Regions from separate parts of the Homo sapiens genome. Here region 2 is linked to region 1. Evidence: fine-mapped expression QTL. A gene starts in region 1. The other region holds a variant in brackets. All regions are shown on one strand. Distances are from middle to middle.

The links.
Region 2: its variant is fine-mapped to the expression of ARHGAP31 in whole blood (INTERVAL, PIP above 0.99). The same link has a PIP of 0.9 or more in blood mononuclear cells and monocytes.

Annotation. Positions count from the first base shown.
Region 1 is chr3:119,291,693-119,297,068 of GRCh38, reverse strand. ARHGAP31 (Rho GTPase activating protein 31) reads right to left here and starts at 2,686. Exons shown (of 12, transcript NM_020754.4): 1 at 2,065-2,686. The coding sequence starts at 2,164. RefSeq lists a silencer at 2,254-2,373 and an enhancer at 3,214-3,263.
Region 2 is chr3:119,320,344-119,325,719 of GRCh38, reverse strand. The region is part of intron 1 of ARHGAP31 (Rho GTPase activating protein 31); the gene reads right to left. ARHGAP31-AS1 (ARHGAP31 antisense RNA 1) reads left to right here and starts at 2,960. Exons shown (of 2, transcript NR_046748.1): 1 at 2,960-3,106. RefSeq lists enhancers at 1,575-2,431, 2,432-3,289 and silencers at 2,253-2,602, 2,653-3,012. The variant C/T (reference allele first, on the strand shown) is at 2,595.

The DNA of each region.
Region 1 (5,376 bases):
TCAGTTGCGTTTCCTTTCAAAGCTGAACTCTCATCAGGTATGTTCAGTCTTCAAAGTTTGCTGATCCTGTAGCAGGGCTGTCTGCTTTCAATTTAGGGGGAAAATATCATTAGAAGAGAATGTTGGCTTAGACACAGAAGCCAGGGAGGGCAGAGGAACCTAACAGGCCAGGGAGGGCCCTCCGATCCTTCATGATTAGCTGTACAACCTCAGGCAGGCCAATTTACCCCTCTGGGCTTCTTTTCCCCCTCCCCAGGGTGGGGAACCCGGGGTACTGGTTTGCCATTCTTTTAAGCAGTAGTCTCTGTTTTTTTTTGTCTAAATGAAACATATGCAGAAGCCCAAAATATAAAGCAGGTGAAAGAACAGCTGCCTAAAGCTGCCTTTGACATATCTTCATAGAACCCTGGGGTTCTGGCTCATCCTATAATCTATTAGTTTGTAAGAACGAACAGGGCTGGCAAGCACCCCTATGCAACTCTCACAGATTTGAGGGAGGGGCCAGAATAACACCCGCATGGTGAAAGGTGGCATCCCAGGAGCATTCCTAGTGTACCTGGAGGTTAACTTGAAGGCCCCTGCAAAAATAGGTGAAGAGGAACCTTTCATTGTAAACTTCTGACGATAGTGGTTAAGAGGCATACTTGGAGTTTTCTCACACTCAAAAAAACTCAAACCAAGTGATTTTTATCTCAAATCTACCTCTCCAGATGGTTGGTGAGGATTCAATGAAGTGTTAAGTTATGCATCAATTTCAAAAGAGTCAGTTTTGAAACCTGTGGTTCTCCAAGCTCTAAAATCCTAAGCTATTTGTCCTAATGACACAGCAGACTGAACTCTAGAATACCACAGGAATATCACACCACTGCAAATTACTAGGTGGTGCTGAGTCTCCCAAAACACAGAAGTGAAACAAAAGCATTGCACTGTTTTTGAAATGCATATTCGATATGGACTAATCAAATAGGTTTTGAGATTATTTTCCTGGAGGCAGAATTATTCCGCACGGTTACACAGCCCTTAGTTTTCCCCTTTGTTGTATCTATCTATGTATAAACACATGGCCTATATAGTAGGCTATTTTCCTCTCGCTGAAGCTTCTGAAGACAAGGCCTTTTTGTCAAGGGTAAGTGCAAAACCAGTCAACCTTACAAAAGGAGTCATTTAATGCTCAATTTTCCAACTTTCCTATGATTAAACACTTCTAAGCTCAAACGCTGTTATTGTAATCTAGATGGTGTTTTCTTTCCCCCTTCCCCAACAAATGTTTAAATTGTCTCCGCTGGATTCCCCCATCCCCAACTCCCCCCTACCCCCATCTGACCTTGAAAACAGAGAAGTTTTCCTTTTCTCTACTTACCCTAAACTATTTAAAAATGGAGGCCCTCTGACCTTTTTACAACACTCTTCTTGTCTGACACACCAAATGTTAATCTGAAAGCCAAGAGGAGGGAAAAGGTCTTGCAGGGCGGGGAGGGGGTTGTGGAAAGGGGGTGGAGGTACTATATATTTGGCATCAGCTCAGAAATTCAGAAATGTTTGTGCAACCACTCCCCCAGCCAGGATCCTCCCCCACCCCCCACCCGCAACTGCCTTCTAACACATTAATAAAAAAAGATGTGAGCAGACGAAATTGGAGAGCCCAGGAGGGACAGCTAAGGCGGTCATGATTTTGTACCCAGGCAAGACCACTGATCACCATCCCACATGTCCACCCCTCCTCCCTCCCTTCCAACGTGCCAAGTTTAGGATTGGGACCTCTGCAGCTTCCACCCCCATCCCCTGAGGTGGCCCGGTAAACTTGCGGCAGTACCACCCATTAACAGCTTGTGTGAGGCAAACGGAAGGACTGACACAGCAGCCTCTGCGCGTCGGGACAGCAGCGCTGTGCACCTTAAGAATCGTTTATGTTCTTTAAAAAAAAAAAAGAAAAAAAAGTGCAATGAGCGCACAGGCCTGGAATACATTAACTTGTGAACCGACTCTATCACAACTCGAGAGAGTCCGTCTCTCCCTCAAACAAAAAGAAGGTGGGGGCGGGGGAGAAAGGCCAAGGCACATTACCATCCTGTCCCGAGCTTTCCAGATACTCCGTCAGGTCACAGCCAAACGCGCTGGCGGCTCCCTTTCGTTTCAGCTTCTGCTTAGCACCCTTGTTCTTCATGAGTTAGTCCCAAAGAGGCTGCCCCTCCGTCTCTGCCGCCCCTCTGCTTGGCACCGCTGTAAGATGGGCTCCCGGGCTAGATCACCGGCTGCCCCGCGGCTCTGGGGGGCCGCATCGGAAGATGGAAGAACTTGGGCTGGGGGCCCTGCGCATGGACCCCGCGGGCCGCGGGCCGGCAGAGCCTGAGATCCACCCCGCGCCGCTCCGGGGCCGCCGTGCCGAGGCCGTGCAGACTGGCAGCCGCGGGCCGGCTCGCCTGGGAGTGTCACTTCCTCACTTGGAGTCCTAGGGACTTTCACAGGCTCCTGCGGTGTCTTCGGGTGTTTCTCCTCAGCTTAAGAGGGAGGGCAAGCTCTCCCCACCCCTTACTAAGTGCCCCGGAGACGACGCGGACGCGGGGCGAGGAGACTGCCCAGGGGGCTGCGGTGGGTCCTGCGCCCTGGGCCCGCTGTCTCGCCTTCAGACGACTTTGGTAGAGCGAAAAACAAGCATCCTGTCGCTGCTGCCCGCCCTCACGCCTTCCTTTTTTTCCTGTCTTACAAATCCTAGGATCATCCAGCTCAGGAAATGCTGGAAGGAAGTTAGCTAGGGAGGGGGGCGGTGGGTGGAAATTTTTGGCAGCTCGGTGCTTGTGAGTGTGTGGAGCTAGAGGAAGTAGGTGGGTGGGTTGAGGAGCACGGGGTTGGGGTAGAGAACGCGTTCTCCCGAGAGCAGTTCTGCGACTCCAGAGATAACTGGGCAGCCCCGGAGGAAATCGCGCTCTTCTCGCAGGACCCGCAGCCGCAGCCGCCGCTTCCTGCCCCGCCGAGCCGGCTCTTTGAAGTGGCGGGAGGAGGTGCGCTGGCATTCTGCGGGGACCGTGCTGGTTGGGACTTTCAGAACCCTCTGCCCTGGTTTTATCCTCATTGTCATCGTATCTTTGACACTTTCTATTTCGGTGCCCGCCTGTCTGCTACGCAAATACTTAAAGAGTAATGACAGAGACAAACAGGGGACTCCAGCGGAGAAACCTGACAGGCAGTGGCTTCACGCCGGCCACTCCCATCCCAACCTCCTCTGCAGCGTTCGTGCACCCCCACCTCAGCTCACTCCCCTCCCACTCTGGGGTAAAGATACCCCTGGGCAAAGAGAGGCTGCAGCTTTGTAACCACTGCCCAGGAAATCAGATTTCTGGTTACATATTCAAGACACACACACACACTACTGCAAAGTTTTCTAAATGGAAGTGATTTGGGGGGGACAAACCAGGATTTAAGATGCCTCTGACACATGAAATGTGAAGAAAGCAGTCTCCCAGGTTCTTTCATAATTTGTTTCAAGTTGTTTCAAGAGGGCATGTTTTTTTCTTCTCCAGTTAGATTTTAAATTCTTTAACTTCTGTGTACTCAGCACACAGAAAGCACTCAAATTCTTGTGATTTAACCATTTGAGGATTAGATGAAACTTCCTGTATAAATTCAAATCCATATACAGGCTTGAAGGATAGGGGCATATGTCATACAGCTCAGATTGCTGGCAAAGCTGCATCCGTAGCATTTTAGGTACTGAATCCCTTTACAGTCACTGTCTCTCTATGTAACCTTAACAGTCTATGAACTTTGACCCTTGACATTTTCTCTATGTCAGAGGTCACAACTTGATAGCCACCCTGCCAGATCTGGCCCATAGATGTACTTGGCTGGCAGACACCATGCTTTAACACGTTTTAAAATTAGTAGCTAGCATTAAAAAGTTAAGAGATTTCACATAAAATCTGAATTTCTGGCTTCTCTTGAAAAAATGGAAGATCTAGTTACACCACAAGTGCATTCCCATATGGCAAGGACGGCTGATGCTGAGTTGTGGCAGGCCCCTTGGAGGCACCCTCTTTAGAGAGACGACTCTTGCAGTTTTGCAGACCCCACGGCCTGTCTTCCCCCTTTTGCACCTGCCTGGCCTCTGCTGCCACTTGAGTTTGCAGCCCAACCTCTATGAATTGTCTTTCCTGTTTTTCATTTTCCATCTCTCAGTGACACTGAGAAGCATTTGCCCCAGTCATCTTGGTGAAATGTCTTCAAGTAACCACAGACTCATTTGTCTCCTTCCTCTCCCACCTGCAAGGTAGTCCCGCCCAGACGATGAGCTCTTCACCATGCCTCTCAGCTTGGTTTATTCCTTTCCAGGCCCACTCAGTGAGGACCATCCACTCCTCAATTATTAAAGTAACTCCTAGTGGGATTTGTTGAGTCCAATCTCCTCCACTTCCTCCATCCTATGTATTAAAAGCTTGAGGAGTCATCTTGAAGGATTGCTGTTGTTATATGCCTGCCTGCCTTGCTGAAAACCTTTCAATAGCTCCCCAGTCCTACTTTTAGGGCAGCAATTTCTAAGCATTTTGTAAACTGCTTGGAGAGTATCTGATAAGGTATTTGGTACAATGGCTTGTTCCTCCCTTTATTTATAGAGAAGCAGCTCCATATGGGACTATAATGATCACTATTAGCATTTGCTTAGCAGTTTACTTCAGCAAGGACTTTTGCATTCATTCTTTCATCTGACTTACGTGGATTTCATCATCTTGTCAGCAAAAGAGAGAGGCTGAAAGAGCCCCTTTTCTGAGTGCAAATAATGGAGAAATTGCCAAGCCCTGTTAATTACCTTTTTAAATATTTCAAAACTTCCTTTTAATGTTTCACTTTCAAGTAATTCCAGCTTATAAATAATTTACAGGCCGGGCGCAGTGGTTCACGCCTGTAATCCCAGCACTTTCGGAGGCCGAGGCGGGCAATCACGAGGTCAGGAGATCGAGACCATCATGGCTAACGCGGTGAAACCCCGTCTCTACTAAAAATACAAAAAAATTAGCCGGGCATGGTGGTGTCGGGCGCCTGCAGTCCCAGCTACTCGGGAGGCTGAGGCAGGAGAATGGTGTGAACCCGGGAGGCGGAGCTTGCAGTGAGCCGAGATGGTGCCACTGCACTCCAGCTTGGGTGACAGAGCGAGACTCCGTCTCAAAAAAAAAAAAATTTACAAAAAAATAGTCAAGGAATTCCCATATACCTTTCACCCAACTTCCCCAAATATTAATATCTTATACAATGAGAGTATAGTTATCAAAATTAGAAAGTTTATATTGATACAATAATATTAATCAATCAACAGACTTTATTCAAGTCTGAATTAATTTTTAAATTACATACAATTTTTATTAAATATGGTCTTTCTCATAATGA
Region 2 (5,376 bases), 29 kb before region 1:
GCCCTAGCTGTCAAACAGCCTGCCTTCAGGCTAAGTCATTTCCGTCCCCCCCTTCCCCCCCAACCCCCGCCATCCCCACCAGGTGGATTCTTGGGTATACAGAACTAGGAGAAGCTAGCTTCCCCTCCACCCTTTCTCCCCTGGTTCAAAGGCTCTGGGACTGGCCCATAGAGGCCTTCCCAGAATACAGGACTGCAACAGTGTGAGTGGGAAGAGGCAGACCCAGGGCAGACTCCCGACCCAGCAGTGTGGCCTTAGGTAAGCCTCCTTGGGCAAGCCACTAAAATATGTTGCCTGTAAAGGGGGAACAACATCTCTGAAATCAGCCTGTAGAGTCACAGCGTCTTGGGAAGATCAACAGAGATGATATGTGAATGTGTTTCTAAAATATTAATGTGCATGACAGCTGCGATGGTTTCCTATCCTAGGACAACCATTTCAAATTTAAAAATCTTCCTTTCCCCTACTTCCCACACAACTAAGTAAGAATTTTAAGCAAAATTTTATCTTAGCATCCAAAAAAGATGAATATGCATGTGTAGTATCTGTGTTGATATAGGTAGGTATGATTCAACAGTTACAGCTTGCTGCATCACTAGTTACTAGAAGGCAGTGATTCTGTGACTTGAAGATATTTTAATTAGCACCAAACACACTGAGAGTGTTCAATAAACATTAACCAATGAGGCCTAATTTAAGACGGCATCATATAAGTCCACACTATGCCACTATTGACATGAGGAGTACTGCTTATTGCTTACCCAAATGACACATTTTCACCTTTTAAGTAAAGTATAGCACCTTCATTTAGCCATTCCGCTGATCTGCAAACTGAGAGACCAAGAGACCTTGGTTTATTCAAAATTGGTTCTCTGTTTTACTAAAAGGAGTCGTCCATTAAAAGTTATGCTCAATACTAAATACCAGTTAGAATAGATACAACTGTGCTGCCTTCACCTACACTAAGGGCTAGGGGTTGAGAGTAGAGAAAGACTCCTCTCCCCACTCTTTGTTTTTCCACGTCTATCCTTAAACATTCTTTGAGGATCTGATTCTCGAAAGGGTTTTTGTTGTTTATGTTTGTTTGTTTGTTTCTTTTAATAGCTACAAATCTCCTTGGGAGGGACAAGGAACCTTGATGTGAACCACATGTGGAATACAGCAATGGTACCCAAGCTTTTTGGATTTCACAGATCAAGTTTAAAAGATTTTGGGGGATCTACCTAGGACTGCTAATTTTTTATTTTTCTGAGAGAGGACATCAACCAACAATAACTATCGTATTTCATAACAGAATGGACAATTCAAAATAACTAAAACTATGAAGCATATAGTCTTAGAATAAAGAATTGTCCTGTTCAAGAAAGGACAAGTGTAACCTTAAAATTGTTATAATACATCCGGATAAATTTATTACATAGATGGCCCTACATTTCCTATGGGTCTGCGGTTGTGAGCCACTGTTCTAGACGGCTAGGAGGGTTTGAAGTGAGTTGAGAACCTTTACTGTCCTGAAGATGGGGTAGGGGCTAGACAAGGGTATATTCTAAAAAGAGGAAAGCGCTACTGTAATAATCTTGCCTAGGATTACATACAGATGGGCATAACAGAGTCCCAGGACTTCACCCCTTCGGTGTAGAGCAGGGATGGCAGGGATGGCAAGAGCCCCACTTAGGATACCTGGAAAAAGAAATCTCCGCAGCAAAGGGTCCTTGTGCTGACTTTTCTTTTTCATTTACGAGTGTACCCTCTGTCTCCTTGGGGGCCCACCTTCTTATTCCCAGCAGGAAAGGGGAAGGGGGAGGACAGGAAATGTGGAAACCGCGTTAACAGCCTGATTGTGAACCAGCACTGCGACTGAGATGCGAGGAGGGAAGGACAAAAGTCCCTCCCTCGCTTTTCAAAAAGTAAGCCACAAAAGTTATAGAAACATTTTCTATTAAACATCATCTCCATTTTGCAGAGAACCTAAGGCTCCGAGGACTTGCCCAGGGCCATACAGCCGGTGAGCCCCAGGGCTCAGCCACAGCCCAGGTAACGAGGACAGGGCTTGCTCCAGCCACCATTGGCTGCCTCTTCGGCCTCCCTCTCTCAGGTGAGACAGTATGTCAGGTGAGGCAACTGAAACAATGTCCCTCAGTTCGGATGCATCCTCCCTCTTCGTTTCCTGTCATGAGACAGGTTTCTCCTCTTCCTGGATGTGGTTAAAAAAAAAAGAAGAAGAAAAGAAACAAAAGAAAAAAGGAAAGAAACGCAAAGCAAAGCCAAGCCCAACGTCTTGGCTCTCAGGGTTGCACCTCCTTTCTCTACCCGCGGGGTCTGGGCCGGCGGGGTGTGGCCGCAGCCCTGGGGCGCGAGAAGCCCATCCGGGCCCGAGGTGCTGGGCGGCCTGGAGCGCTGGCTGCCCCCAGGGCCGGCGGCTGTCCCTGGGGTTTCCCCGCTTCTGGGCTTTCCCCGCTTCTGGGCTCGGTGGCCGCGCGGGCGGGCGCCAAGTGACTCAGCCGTCCCCGAGGGCGTTCCGGGAAGCGGCCGGGGGCGCGGGCTTTCCTGTCGCCGCAGCGTGTGAGTCCCCAGCGCCGAAAGGGGATCAGAAA[C/T]CGCTGGGCGGAGCAGCGGGAGGAAGCTGCGGCGCGCAGAGCAGAGTCAGCGCCACCGTCTTTCGAGCTGGAGCGGAGGGAACGTGGCCTTGACGTTGCTGAAGCTGAAGCGCCGGGCGGGCGCCCGGACCCCGGGGCGGGGCAGAAACGAGTCCGTTCCCTACTGCGGGGCGGGGGCAGGGCTGGAACGGGAGTTCAGGAGGGACAAGGACGTGGAAGGAGCCCAGCAGAGGGCACCCGGGACCCCCGCGGCCGGGCCGAGTTTGAAGGGAGCCCCTCTCCCCCTCCCCCTGGCGGAGCCCCCTGTAGGGTCTGACCTGGTGCCCCGCAACAGGAGCGGGAGGAGGAGCAGGCCCAGAGCGGCCGGGCCCCAGCCTAGAGGGGCGCTCGAGGGGAAGCGAGTGAAGTGAGGGCTCCGCCAGAGCAGCACCCCCTTCCCCGCCGTCCCTCCCGGACTGGCCGGTTCTCGTCAGAGATTCCTTTGTCTTCGACGCTGGTCCCTCCACACCAAGGTGGGAGGCTGAGGTGGGAGGTGGCAGAGCGGTGGGAGTGGGAGCAAGGCCGGAGCGTGGGTGGAGGCGCTGGCCGCGGGCTTGCAAGGATGGCACAAGGGAGACATCCAGGACAAACCATGGGGAACACAGCTGCCACTGAGAGAAGCTGCCCGGAGGAGGAAGGGGCTGCAAAGTTCAACCACCAGGCAAGGCAAGTCCACGAACAAAATCCCGGCTCTAAAAACAGAGCAGCAATTGTCACTGTGGGTTAGACGCTTTGAGTTACCTCTATTTTCATTTATGTCTAAGATAAATTCAAGAGACAAGGAGAAAGTCAGGAGGTTAAAATTCCAGCCTCTGGTCCCAGCTCCCTAAAGCCAGCTCCCTTCTTGTCTTTGCCAAAGTTTGCTTCTATGAATCAGTAATTAACCCCCACTTTTTTTCTTATGTCAGAGTTCCTTCAGTCACAACCAAGAGAGTTCTGACTAATAACACACCTTTTAATCCAGCAATTTTACTTCTGGGAGTTTATTCCAAAGAAATATTACATAACAAAAGAGCCATATGCCTCACAATATTCACTGTGGGCTTGTTCATAAAATTAAAACAATCATAACTATAAATGTCCAGTAATGGAGGCAGGGAATAAACTGGCATATTTATATGATAAACTACTATGGGCCGGGCGTGGTGGCTCACGCCTGTAATCCCAGCACTTTGGGAGGCTGAGGCGGGCAGATCACCCGAGGTCAGAAGTTCAAGACCAGCCTGGCCAACATGGCGAAACCCCGTCTCCACTAAAAATACAAAAACAAGTTAGCTGGGCGTGGTGGTGTGGGCCTATAGTTCCAGCTACTTGGGAGGCTGAAGCAGGAAAATCACTTGAGCCCGAGAGGTAGAGGCTTCAATGAGCTGAGATCGTGACACTGCACTCTGGCCTGGGCAACAGAGCGAGTCTCCGTCTCAAAACAAAACAAAACCTACGGAGCCTTAAAATGTTATATGTAGGGTTTTATAACTTGAATAAAGACTTCGGTTATAAGAAAGCAAGACACAAAATCATATATATATATAATATATATATACACACACACAGTGTAATCACAATATGAAAATGTACATAGAAAAAAAACACTTGAAGGAAATCCACCAAAATGTTACATCTTTGGGTGATAGAATTACATACAAGTATTTTTTTCTTTCTAAAACATTTATGTATTTCCCAATTTATCTACAATGAGGATAAGCATGTATTATTAAAAAGTATGAAAACATTGATTTTAAAATTTTACATATATAGTATATAATTATATATACATAATACATATATATATACTATATATATATATATAGTATATATATATATGTGAAATTGCTGCTGAATAGGAAATCACCGGGCCTGGGTGAAAGATGATAAAATTTACTTGAGCAATTTTTCCACTAATTGAATGATTTTTCTGCAATTTAAAAAGGGTATATGGAAGTTAAAGAGGATGGGTCAATGTTTATACATCTGTATTAGTTCGTTTTCACACTGCTGATAAAGACATACTGGAGACTGGGCAATTTACAAAAGAAAGAGGTTTAATGAACTTGCAGTTCCACATGGCTGGGGAGGCCACAAGTCATGGTGGAAGATTAAAGGCACTCAAGAGAAGAGAGAGCTTTTGCAAGGAGACTCCCGTTTTTCAAAACCATCAGATCTCGTGAGACTTACTCACTATCACAAGAACAGCCCGAGAAAGGCCTGGCCCCATGATTCAATTACCTCCCACCAGGTCCCTCCCACAACACGTGGGAATTCAAGATGAGATTTGGGTGGGGATACAGCCAAACCATATCAATGTCCAAGATATTAGTGAAAGGGAAGGGCATGCCACAGTAGGCCAGAGGAGAGAAAACATCTGAGTTTTAGAATACACAAAAAGAAAATGATGAGATCGCAGCTGATTCTTGATTGGTGAGGACTTGCTGGTTTGTGGGCAGAAGTAATGGAACTTTTAATGGCAAAGGGAAGAATACACTCAAACATTATTTAAGATAGGAGGTAAGGGAGTAATGGGTAAGGTTACTGCATCATGAAAAGTTTTGTTTACAATGGGTTTACTGTATTTATCAGGATAATATTTTTTAATCCTGAAGAATAGGTGTGCAAAATGAATTTAACATCTTCACATTTGGCCCAAGGTTGTTGATACCAGTATTATTATCTTACCTTAGCAATAGGATGAGTATGCTTATTTTGGGTTGGAAAATGCCTAATGATCATGTAGCCCCTTATTTGGGGC